Linked DNA regions of Homo sapiens: region 2 is linked to region 1. Evidence: fine-mapped QTL for protein levels in blood plasma. Region 1 holds a variant in brackets. A gene starts in the other region. All regions are shown on their reverse strands.

The links. PIP is the chance, under the fine-mapping model, that this variant and not a neighbour inherited with it causes the effect. Protein levels are from antibody-based Olink assays in UK Biobank. Linkage for the fine-mapping came from a reference panel and not from the study's own genotypes, which makes the PIPs less certain.
Region 2: it holds the start of WIF1, and the variant in region 1 is fine-mapped to the plasma level of the WIF1 protein (UK Biobank, PIP 0.98).

Annotation. Positions count from the first base shown.
Region 1 is chr9:18,626,201-18,631,587 of GRCh38, reverse strand. All of the region lies in intron 5 of ADAMTSL1 (ADAMTS like 1), which reads right to left. Among named protein-coding and RNA genes, the nearest start is that of MIR3152, 56 kb to the right of the region's middle. The variant C/T (reference allele first, on the strand shown) is at 2,303.
Region 2 is chr12:65,121,141-65,126,527 of GRCh38, reverse strand. It overlaps WIF1 (Wnt inhibitory factor 1), which reads left to right and starts at 5,223. Exons shown (of 10, transcript NM_007191.5): 1 at 5,223-5,387. The coding sequence starts at 5,337. RefSeq lists a silencer at 4,903-5,062.

The DNA.
Region 1 (5,387 bases):
TTATCTTATTTTTAGATCCGTTGATGAGTTCATGTTTTTAAAGACTCTTCCCTCTATGCCTATGGAGCTGACACTTTATTTTATTTTATTTTTAAAAATGAGAGAGTCATTTTAAAATACAATTGACTATGTATAAAAATAGTCTGCCAATCTTGAGGAGGTTTAAATGGTATGTTTTACATCTTCGTGACGGTTTTATTACTCTTAAAATATATCCAACAAAATAAGAAGTTGAGCATCTGAGGCTTTCAATTTTCTCCCTGGTTTATCTGTAATTGCACAATAGAAGATATATACTGGACAGGCCAAACAAGATGCCCTCCTCATTCCCATCTGGAGAACTTCATCCTTCCATTTGCCTAGGCCAGAAAACTTGGAGCCATCCTCTACTTCATCTTTATATGTAATCAGTTAAAAAGTTCTGTTGTCAAAATACCCTATTTCATTGATTCCAAGAGGGACAACTTTTCATGCTTTAACATATATGAAATCAGAATACATCTCACAATCAGTAGTATCTTATATTCCCTCTCACTCAGGCGATAATCCTGACATAGATACCGTTGCCTACACAGGTGCTAACATCAAAACAGCCAGTATCAAACTCACAAAATGAGTGTCAGCCGCTTGGGAGAAAATTATAAGACAATATTGGAACACATTCAACCTCTAGGAACCAAATGGCTGTGGAGGTTGTAGGGAGATGAGGAATCAGAATTACAGGTGCTTAACTGCATTGTCGTAGAAGGAGTCAAAAGTTGGCTAGCTCTATGTAATTGCAGAGCTGAATTGAAAGCCCAGCACCAAGACTTCTGCTTCTGACAAAGATGAACTAACAGGAACCAGATTTAATATTCTGTCTAAAACAATCAAAAAGTCAGATGAAACCATGGTTTTTAAGATATTGGACATCAGGCAAAAAAGGGCAGCAATTCTGTATACTCAGGAAACACATCAGATAAGGCCCAACATTGCCCCAGCTTACTGCCTTGATAGAGTTCCTAGGCTACAGCTTTGGAAGTATGAAGACCTGTAGAGCTCAGTAGATTCCCTGAATTGAGTAGACAAAGCCAAGAGTCCAAGGAGACAAAAACAGTTAGAATTTCTGGGACAAAGTAACAGAAAGGAGAGAGCTATACAGAAGGACAACTCTGGACACCCAAGAGGGTTTCCTTAAAGTAGCCAGCAGCATACTAATCAATACATAAGTGTGAGGAAATTACCCGGCCTGGGGAAAGAACTACACAAAAGAATTATAGAGAAGAGTACACGGTGCTCATACAGGGCTGAGAATAGTATCTTATCCCATCAGCCAAAGTGACAAACTTTGTAAGTCATGGAACATTAAGTAGTCTACTCAGAAAGGTCCCGCCTCAGTAAAAGGGTACAATTAGCTCTAGACCAAACATGGCTTTGGTCCTGTCTACCACATTTTAAGACCCCAAAGGTTCAAACTGATTTCAGTAACTTAACTGCTCCCAGAACACAGCTCAAGGATATTTATAGAAATACAAAAATATCTAGTACCCAAGAAAGTAAAATTTGTAATGTCTGGCATCAAGTCAAAAAATAATGAGGCACGCAAAGAAACAAACAAACAAAAAAAACAGCACATATTAAAGTGAAAAATCAATCAATCCAAACACAGAATGGATATTAAAATAGTTACTATAATGGTGTTCCATAAGTTCATAAGGTTACATACTGAAAAATAAATCTCCAGATCCAGAAAATTTCACTGGGGCATGGTAGCAGCCATTTAAAGAATAAATATATTCAATTCCATACAATCTCTTCCAGAAAAAAAGAAGACAAGCAATTACTTCTCTACTCATCGTTTGAGGCCATTTTGTGCTAATACTAACACCAAACAAAGACAATACAAAAAAGAATACGACAGACCAGTATCTCTCATGAACACAGATAAAAAGCCTCAACAAAATACTGCCGAATCAAACTAGAAATCTATATAAAGAATAATACACCATGACCAAGTACACTTTATCCCAGAAATGCAGAGTTGGTTATTTAAAAACCAATTAATGTAATTCATCACAATAACAATCTAAAGAAGAAAAACCACAGGACTTTGTCAGTTGAGGTAAAAGAGAATTTAATAAAATTCATCATCCCTTCATGTTATTAACTCTCAGCAAACCAGGAAAGGAAGGGAACTTCCTCAATCTGATAAAGGGCATTTATAAAAACCTACAGCTAACATCATACTCAATGGTGAGAAACTGAATGCTTTCCTCTTAAGATTAGGAATAAGATAAGGACCTCCATTGTCATCATTCCTATT[C/T]ACTATTGTATTGCATGCGTAGCCAGTACAATAAGACTACAAAAAAAAAAGTGGCTTACAAATTGAAAAGAGGCAAAACCACTCTTACTTGTAAACAACATGATTGTTTATTGAGAAAATCCCAGTCATCTACCAAAAAACTCAGAGGTATTGAGTGAGTGTATCAAGTTTACATAATACACGGCTAACACACAAAAATCAATCATGTTTCTGTGAACTAGGAATATATAATTGGACATGGAAATAAAGAATACAATGCCAAGCCAAGCGCAGTAACTCCTGTAGTCCCAGCTACTTGGGAGGCTGAGGCAGGTAGATCACTTGAGCTAAGGAATGTGGGTCTGTAGTGTGCTATGATTACATCTGTGAATAGCCACTGCACTTCAGTCTGGGCAACATAGTGAAACCTCATCTCTAATTTTAAAAAAGAGAATATAATGCCATTTGCAATAGTTACAAAAAATACAACAGATGTAAATCATATAAAGTATATGCGATCTTCATGCTGAAAGCTAATAAAGGCTAATCAAAGAGATAAAATAAGACCTAAGTAAACAGAGACATAAAATTCTCATACCTTATAGATTGAGTGACTTAACATGCTAAAGATGTCAATTCCTACCCCCTCCAAATCAATCTGTAGAATTAACACAAAAAAATCCCAGCAAGACTTTTTGTAGATATGGACAAGCAGATAGTAAAATTTATATGGAAAGACAAAGACCCAGAATAGAATAGCCAAAATGAATTTGAAAACAAGAACAAAGTTGGAGAAATCACACTACCACATTTTAAGATTTACCTTAAAGCCACGGTAATAAAAAAAATGGAGTATTGATGAAGGGACAGACACATAGCAGAATAGAGTCCAGAAACAGACCCTCAGAGAAACGGCAATAGATTTTTGACAAGGTTTAAAGACAATTCAAAAGAGAAAAGGCTGTCTTTTTCAACAAATGGTACTGGAAGAATTGGGCGTCTATACGAAAAAAAATTCAAGCTACCTATCAAACTTACACCTTATACAAAAAATAACTGAAAATAGGTCACTGATCTAAAGGTGAAATGTATTTCTGCAAGAAAACACGGAGAAAATCTTTGTGTCCTGGTCTTAGGCAAGAAGTTCTTAGACATGACATTAAAAGCATGAGCCGTAAAAGAAAAAAAATGATAGCGTGGTCTTCATCCAAATGAAAAGCTTTTGCTCTGTGAAAGATAACATTAAGCAATTTTGAATAAAAAAGCTATGATGGAGAAAATATTTCCAATTCAAATATCCCACAAAGGACTTGTACCTAGTATATATAAAGAACTCCCAAAACTCAACAAGAGAAAGTCAAGCAACACATTTTTTAAAAATGAGCAACAGACTTGAACTGACACTATGCAAAAGATGAACAAAGCACACTGTGGTAAGTAGACTAATGTATCCCTCTCCCCTGCCAAATATGTCCTTAAATCTGTGAATGTGTAATATTATGTGGCAAGGGGGAATTAAGGTTGCTAATGGAATTAAGATTGCTAATCAGGTCACCTTAAAATTAAGTGATTATCCTGGATGATCTGAGTGGACTCAATGTAATCACAAACATTCTTTAATATGGAAGAGGCAGGCAGAAGAGGAAGCTTGAGTCAGAGAGAGATCTGAAGATGCTAAGCTACTGACTTTGAAGATGCCAAAGAATGTGCATAGGCTCCAGGAGCAGGAAAATCAAAATTGAAGAAAGAGAAATACTCCCTCAATGCTTCCAGAGCTGTGTTCTGCAAACACCTTGTTTTTAGCCCAGTGAAACCTATTTCAGTTTTCTGACGCCCCCAGAACCATAAAATAATAAATTTGTGTTGCTTTAAATCACTTAGTCTGTGGTAATTAGTTACAGCAGCAATTGCAAGATAATACAACATGAAAAGATGTTAACATTATTAGCCATTAGGAAAATGCAAATAAAAACAAGTATGAAATACCACTACTCACTGATAAGAATGGCTAAAATTTAAAATGGTGGCCAGGTGCCGTGGCTCACACCTGTAATCCCAACACTTTGGGAGGTTGAGGTGGGCAGATCACTTGAGGCCAGGAATTTGAGACCAGCCTGGCCAACATGGCAAAACCCCATCTCTACTAAAAATACAAAAATTACTCAGGCATGATGGTGTGCACCTGTAATCCCAGCTACTTGGGGAGGCTGAAGTGGGAGGATCACCTGAGTCCAGGAGGTCAAGGCTGCAATGAGCTGAGCTGTGATAGTGCCACTGCACTGAAGCCTCAGTGACAGAGTGAGACCCTGTTTCAATAAAAGAAAAAAAGAAGAAAGAAAGAAAAAGAAAAGAAAAGAAAGAAAGAAAGGAAAGAAAGAAAGAAAAAGAAAAAAAGAAAAGAAAGAAAGGAAGGAAGGAAGGAAGGAAGGAAGAAAGACAGAAAGAAAGAAAGAAAGAAAGAAAGAAAAAGAAAGTAAGAAAGAAAGAAAGAAAGAAAGAAAATAAATACAGGTGCAGTATATCTATGATTGGATCACTTCTCATCATTTCCACAGCTACTGGTACAGTCCAAGCCATTGTCATCTGTGGCCTGGCTTAGTGTAATATCTTTCCAACTACAGTCTATTCTCAGTATAGCAGAAATCTGATCAAGTTATTCCTCTGTTCAAAATCCTCCAACAACTTCCCATTTCATTCAGACTTACAAAAAACCCCACAATATCTGTGCCATTCTTCCCCCAGCCTCATATCATTTTCTCTAGCCTTTTTGAAACTCACCTCATTTTAGTCACACTGGCTTCTTTGTTCTTCATGAAATATATCCCGAATGCAAATACCACAGGACGTCTGCACTTGCTTTTCTCTTTTCCTAGAATTTTCTTCTCCCTGACTTCTGCATGGTGACCCCTTTTCACTTCCCTTAGATCCTTGTTTAAATGCCATGTTATCAGTGAGTCCTTTCTTTATTAATTTACTGAAAATTGCAGCTCCCCTGCATCACCTGTGGCTGGCAGCCTATACCCATTTCCTGTTCTCCTGCTCTGGTTTGTTTTTTCCATGGCTCCTAGGAAGATAAATGGATTTTGTCTGTTTTGTTCTGTGCTGT
Region 2 (5,387 bases), not on the chromosome of region 1:
CGAATCAGAAAATATTTGTGCATAAATGGAAAATCATTCCCTATCTGTGTTCCTACTTCCCATAGGTAACCACTAGAAATATTTTGTTATATAAACTTTCAGACGTTATAGAAAAGGTAGACAGTTATAGTCTATCCATAGTTATATATAGCTATTATATATGGTAGTATAAGAAGAGAGTTTGTTTTTTAAGCATAATCCTCGCCAACTTGCCCTTTTCATTTACTATCTCATGTCTCCCTCTCCACAGCAGTGTAGTACAGGGGTATCTTTTCCTTCCTTCTCCAAGACACAGCTTAGGGTGCAGCTGATATGCACCAGTCTCAGTCCCAATGCCTGCAGTCACCAAGATAGTTCTGGCAACTTGCCTGGGTGAATGAATGGCTGGACACTGACAAGACCTACCTCTAGAGCTGTGTTGCCCTGGTTCCCACACAACTGCACTTCCAAGATGAGCACTGGCTTCAGCCCCCTCAGATACCTTCTTCTTCCCTGTCCCTCCGGGTCTCCTCCAGGATATGCATGGCAAACTCAGGAGCCTACAGAAGCCTAGATGGTCAAGTAAAAGAGCAAAGCATGCTGGATGGAAGAGTAGTGCAACTGTAACGACTGGGCACGCTAGTCCTCTTTGAAGGGCAGTCACTACTCACACCATCTGATTCTTTCTAAGAAGGGAATATTGTCAGATCTCTACATTTTCAAGAGCAGCCAGAAATCAAATTTTTAATTAAAAAATCTGCTTTTCAAATGTCAGCAGCTAAGATTTTTTAAACATATTCAAGTCTTGATCTTTAATTTTTAAAATAAGCTTTATATTTTAGAACAGTTTTAGATTTACAGCAAAAATGGCAAAGATAGTACAGAGAGTTTCCATATACCCCCACACCCAATTTTCCCTGTTATTAACATCCTATATTAGAATGGTACATTTGTCACAATTAATGAGCCAATATTGATACAGTGTTATTAGTAGTTGACTTACATTTCCTTAGCTTTACCTAATGTCTTTTTTCTATTCCTGGATGCTGTCCAGGATAGCACATTACATTTGGTAGTCATGTGTCTTTAGGTTCCTCTTGGCTACGAGTTTCTCAGACTTCCCTTTTTTGTTTGATCACTGACAGTTTTGAGGCATACTGATCAGGAATTTTGTAGAATGTCCTTCAGTTGGGTTTTTCTGATATTTTTCTTGTGACTAGACTGGGGTTATGGGTTTTCAGGAGCAAGATCACATAGGTAAAGTACCATTCTCATCACATCATATCAAGGGCACATACTATCACATGACTCATCACTGTTGATGATCTTGATCACCTAGTTGAAGTAGTGTTTGTCAGGTTTGTTACTTTCCCCACTTTCCACACTGCACGCTATAAAAGGAAGTCACTCTGCACATCCCACACTTCAGGAGTGGGGAGTTACGCCTCGCCTCTTTGAGGACAGCGTCTCTAAACAAATTATTTGGAATTGTTCTCAGCACAATCTTCCATAACCAGGTCCTACCTACATTTTGGGCTTCATCCCCAGCTGCTCCCTCCCTCTCCCATTCCAGGCTCATCATACTACAGGTCAGCACCTGCAGATCCTGCATGGTGCCATTCTTTCTCATGTCTCTTGCTCTCACTATTGCCACTGTCTATGCATGGATGTTCCTTATCTTTCCCCCTTGCATGCTCAATTCCCCTTTGACCTTCAAGACTGCTCAAGTATGCTCTACTCTAGAAAGTCTTCCCAGAACCCAGTCTGCCTCGAAGGATTTTCCTTGAGTCCCAAAATACCCTGTGCATTTTCCCACCATGGCGTTCATTCCTCTCTATTGTTTATTCTCAACACACTCCCTTGTTAGACTGAGAGTTCTTTGACAGCAGGGCTGTCTTTTTACTTACCTTTCTATCCCCTGTGCTTATATACGGCAAACATCAGACACCGGGTAAATATATTTTGAATGAATGAATGAACAAACAAATGTGCAGAATTCTAGATACAAGATTTCTTCTATGAATTTCCAGTCATTCTGCCTTATCAACAATCACCACATTCTGCCTTGTATTATGGTTGTTTAGGTACTTGTCTTACTTATTTTAGTAGCTCTATTGCTCTTTGAAGGCTATGATCATGTTTTATTTGTACTATAATTTCCAGGTCAGTGTCTTACATATAATAGCTGTTTAATAAATCTTTGTTGAATAAGCAAATGAGTTAATGAACAAATAAATGAAGCTGCCTGCACACATAATTGATGAGAGGGAATCGCACAAGGAAAGGAAGCATAATGAACTGGAAAATAAATGGCAGAATTTTCAAACGAAATGAAGTTGACTTGCCTAGCACATTATTTCCAAATTTTTATCATATGCTAGTAAATATTGTCACATGTTTGTTTAAAGAAATTTAAAAACTTAAATCAATTCTTAATGAAATAGCTACATAACTGCTCCTTAACAACAGAAAGGAGAGTCAAGCCTGATTCATCTCTTAGAGATAGACCTCCCTACAAAAAGAACCACGCTGCTACCCTTAAAAATCACTGTTGTATAACAAAACATGTGTTCCTTTGTCCCCTTTAATAACCAAACGAGTTTATATCAAAAATTTTTTAAATAGCATTTCTCTTTATCTATCTCTAATAAAATATAATTTTTCTAAGTGTCCTGTGCTGGAGAGAAGTAAACAGAAAACAACCATTCTGGAAGAAAAAAAACGTCCTTATAGCAAGATAGATTACCATTGTTATCAACACCAAATTCAACTGCTGCAGAAGAACCTCACTCAGAGGAAACCGAGTTAGGAGAGAATTTAGTTCCTCTTTTTCTTGCACCAAAAAATAAATTTTATGAATATTTCTCAATTAGTATTTGATTAGGAAAACCTGTAGAGGGCGTCCTTGCACCAAGAGCCATAGAGGTTTGCGCAGAACTAGAAAAAAATGTTAAAACCACTCGCTCCGAGTTAAAGAAAATGCCTATTGTGCTGTGAAATTATTATCTTTACCTGGGTGACACTGGCATTATAACATTAAAGTGTTTTAAAAGTAGCCTAATGTTCATACATTATATACATGAATATTCATAGAAATAAAAAATAATGCAATGTTGGGAAACAGGTAAATATTTTTATTGTAAAGGAAGAATCACTGTGAAGCTTTGGATGCAAATAGACTTAATTATGATTTATTTATCAGTATGAGGTATAAGTTACTAAGAGAATGGGCTTTGAAATCAGAGTGTCTGGGATTTGAACCCTTACTCTCATTTACCAGCTGGATATCCACAGTCAACTTACTGGACTTTTTGAGCCCTCTTTCCTCGTCAGTAAAATAAGAATAATAGTAGTACCTACTTAAGAGTTGTGAGGATTAAGTAAGCACTTAAAATAAAAGTACTTTAAAAATTAAGACACTGCAAGTTCAAATCAGTCATAGACTTCTTGTCTAATTCCTTTTTTCCTTTTTTTTTTTTCTATTGGTTGGTTGTATAGCTGCAAATATTTCCTCATTGGAAATCTATATTCTCAGAACCTAACACTGATTTAACTTGATGCCTGCACATGTCCACCATCTCTTCTGTTGTTTCTGTTTGTTTTTCCCTCTTGAGGCATCTGCTACTCTATAAAGGACTGATTGAAACACCACGCCCAGCCCCAGACATTTGATCCTTGAGGCATTTGTCACAGCTTCGGGTACTAAAGAACAAACACAAGTAAATGAACCTTTTATGAGTCCGAAGGCTAAGTTTTTTAATTAAAAACAAAACAAAACAAAACCCTTTTGCTTCCGTTTTCTTTGTGCATCCGAGGAATTAGGCAGGAGGCAAAAATCAGTTCTTTCTGCTGGGCCAGGTGGATAGGTTATGCTGCAGCCCACTGCCGGCCAAGCATGCTTCTCACAGACGAGGCCAGAGCCTTGGTTTTGCCCCCACGCACCTGTGAATTCGGCAACTTTTAAAAAATTATTTTATTTATTTATTTATATATTTTTTGAGACGGAGTCTCGCTCTATCGCCCAGGCTGGAGTGCAGTGCCACGATCTTGGCTTAATGCAACCTCCGCCTCCCGGTTCAAGTGATTCTCCTGCCTCAGCCTCCCGGGTAGCTAGGACTACAGGCCCCCGCCACCATGCCCAGCTAATTTTTGCATTTTTAGTAGAGACGGGGTTTCACCACGCTGGCCAAGCTGGTCTCGAACTCCTGACCTCAGGTGATCCGCCCGCCTTGGCCTCCCAAAGTGCAGGGATTACAGGCGTGAGCCATCGCGCCCGGCCGAATTCAGCAACTTTTAAAAAATATCAGCAAACGTGAAGATATCCACGATGTTAGAGGAGCCCTACCCCGGAGGGTCAGGTACAGCTATCGTCCAGGGCCCAGGGCACTCTTCCGGGCACTGCCGGGTTATCAGGGAGACAGACGGGAATCCCCAAATGCTGGGTGTCGGGCAAGTACCAGCTGGACGCCCTGCGCCTCGAGCCAAGGCCAGCGCCTGCCATCGGCACCATCGGACAGTCGAGCCTCGAGTTTTAACTGCTTGGGAGCGCGCAAAGTGCCAGCCTATCGCAGAACGGAGCGCATAGGGTTGGCGGAGAGAGGAATCCTACTGGCTGAAAGGGAGACGAAGGGCAATTTGCGCCTTCAGTGAGCGCCGGAGGAGGAACAGGAGTCATCACCTCATCATCATCATCATCATCATCATCACCATCACCATCACCATCATCAGCACTCAGTCAAGCCCAGCGTTGTCTGCTCTCCCCATTTCCCTCCCCCGAAGCCTCCCTTGGCCCGAGGAGGTGGCGAGTGATGTCCCAGGGGTCTCTGAGTGCCCTTCTCCGGGTCCGCCAGCCCTACACGCCCACTTCGCGGGCGCTCCACTGGGCGCACCGCACTGTGAATGCAGCCTCGGGGGTCCCTCGCGGCCCCGCCCCCGGGGGGGCCCCACAGCGCCCCCAAGTGGCGGCCGCCCAGGCCTCGCGGGCCCCACTCCTCGCTCGCACCTCGCTCGCGCCAGCCCTTCCCGCTCTTCTGTTCTCGCTCTATTTGCCCCGCTGACTGCTGGCCTCGCCAGCTTTGCCAGTCTTACGTCTCTGCCGCCCCCACTCCCGCCCGCGCCCCATCTTCTTGCGCGACTCGCGCCCGCTGGTCCCCCCCTCCTCCTCCCGCGTCCTGCCTGCCCCCTCCTCCTGCTCTCGCAGGCTCCTTGGCACCCAGGCCGGGAGGCGACGCGCCCAGCCGTCTAAACGGGAACAGCCCTGGCTGAGGGAGCTGCAGCGCAGCAGAGTATCTGACGGCGCCAGGTTGCGTAGGTGCGGCACGAGGAGTTTTCCCGGCAGCGAGGAGGTCCTGAGCAGCATGGCCCGGAGGAGCGCCTTCCCTGCCGCCGCGCTCTGGCTCTGGAGCATC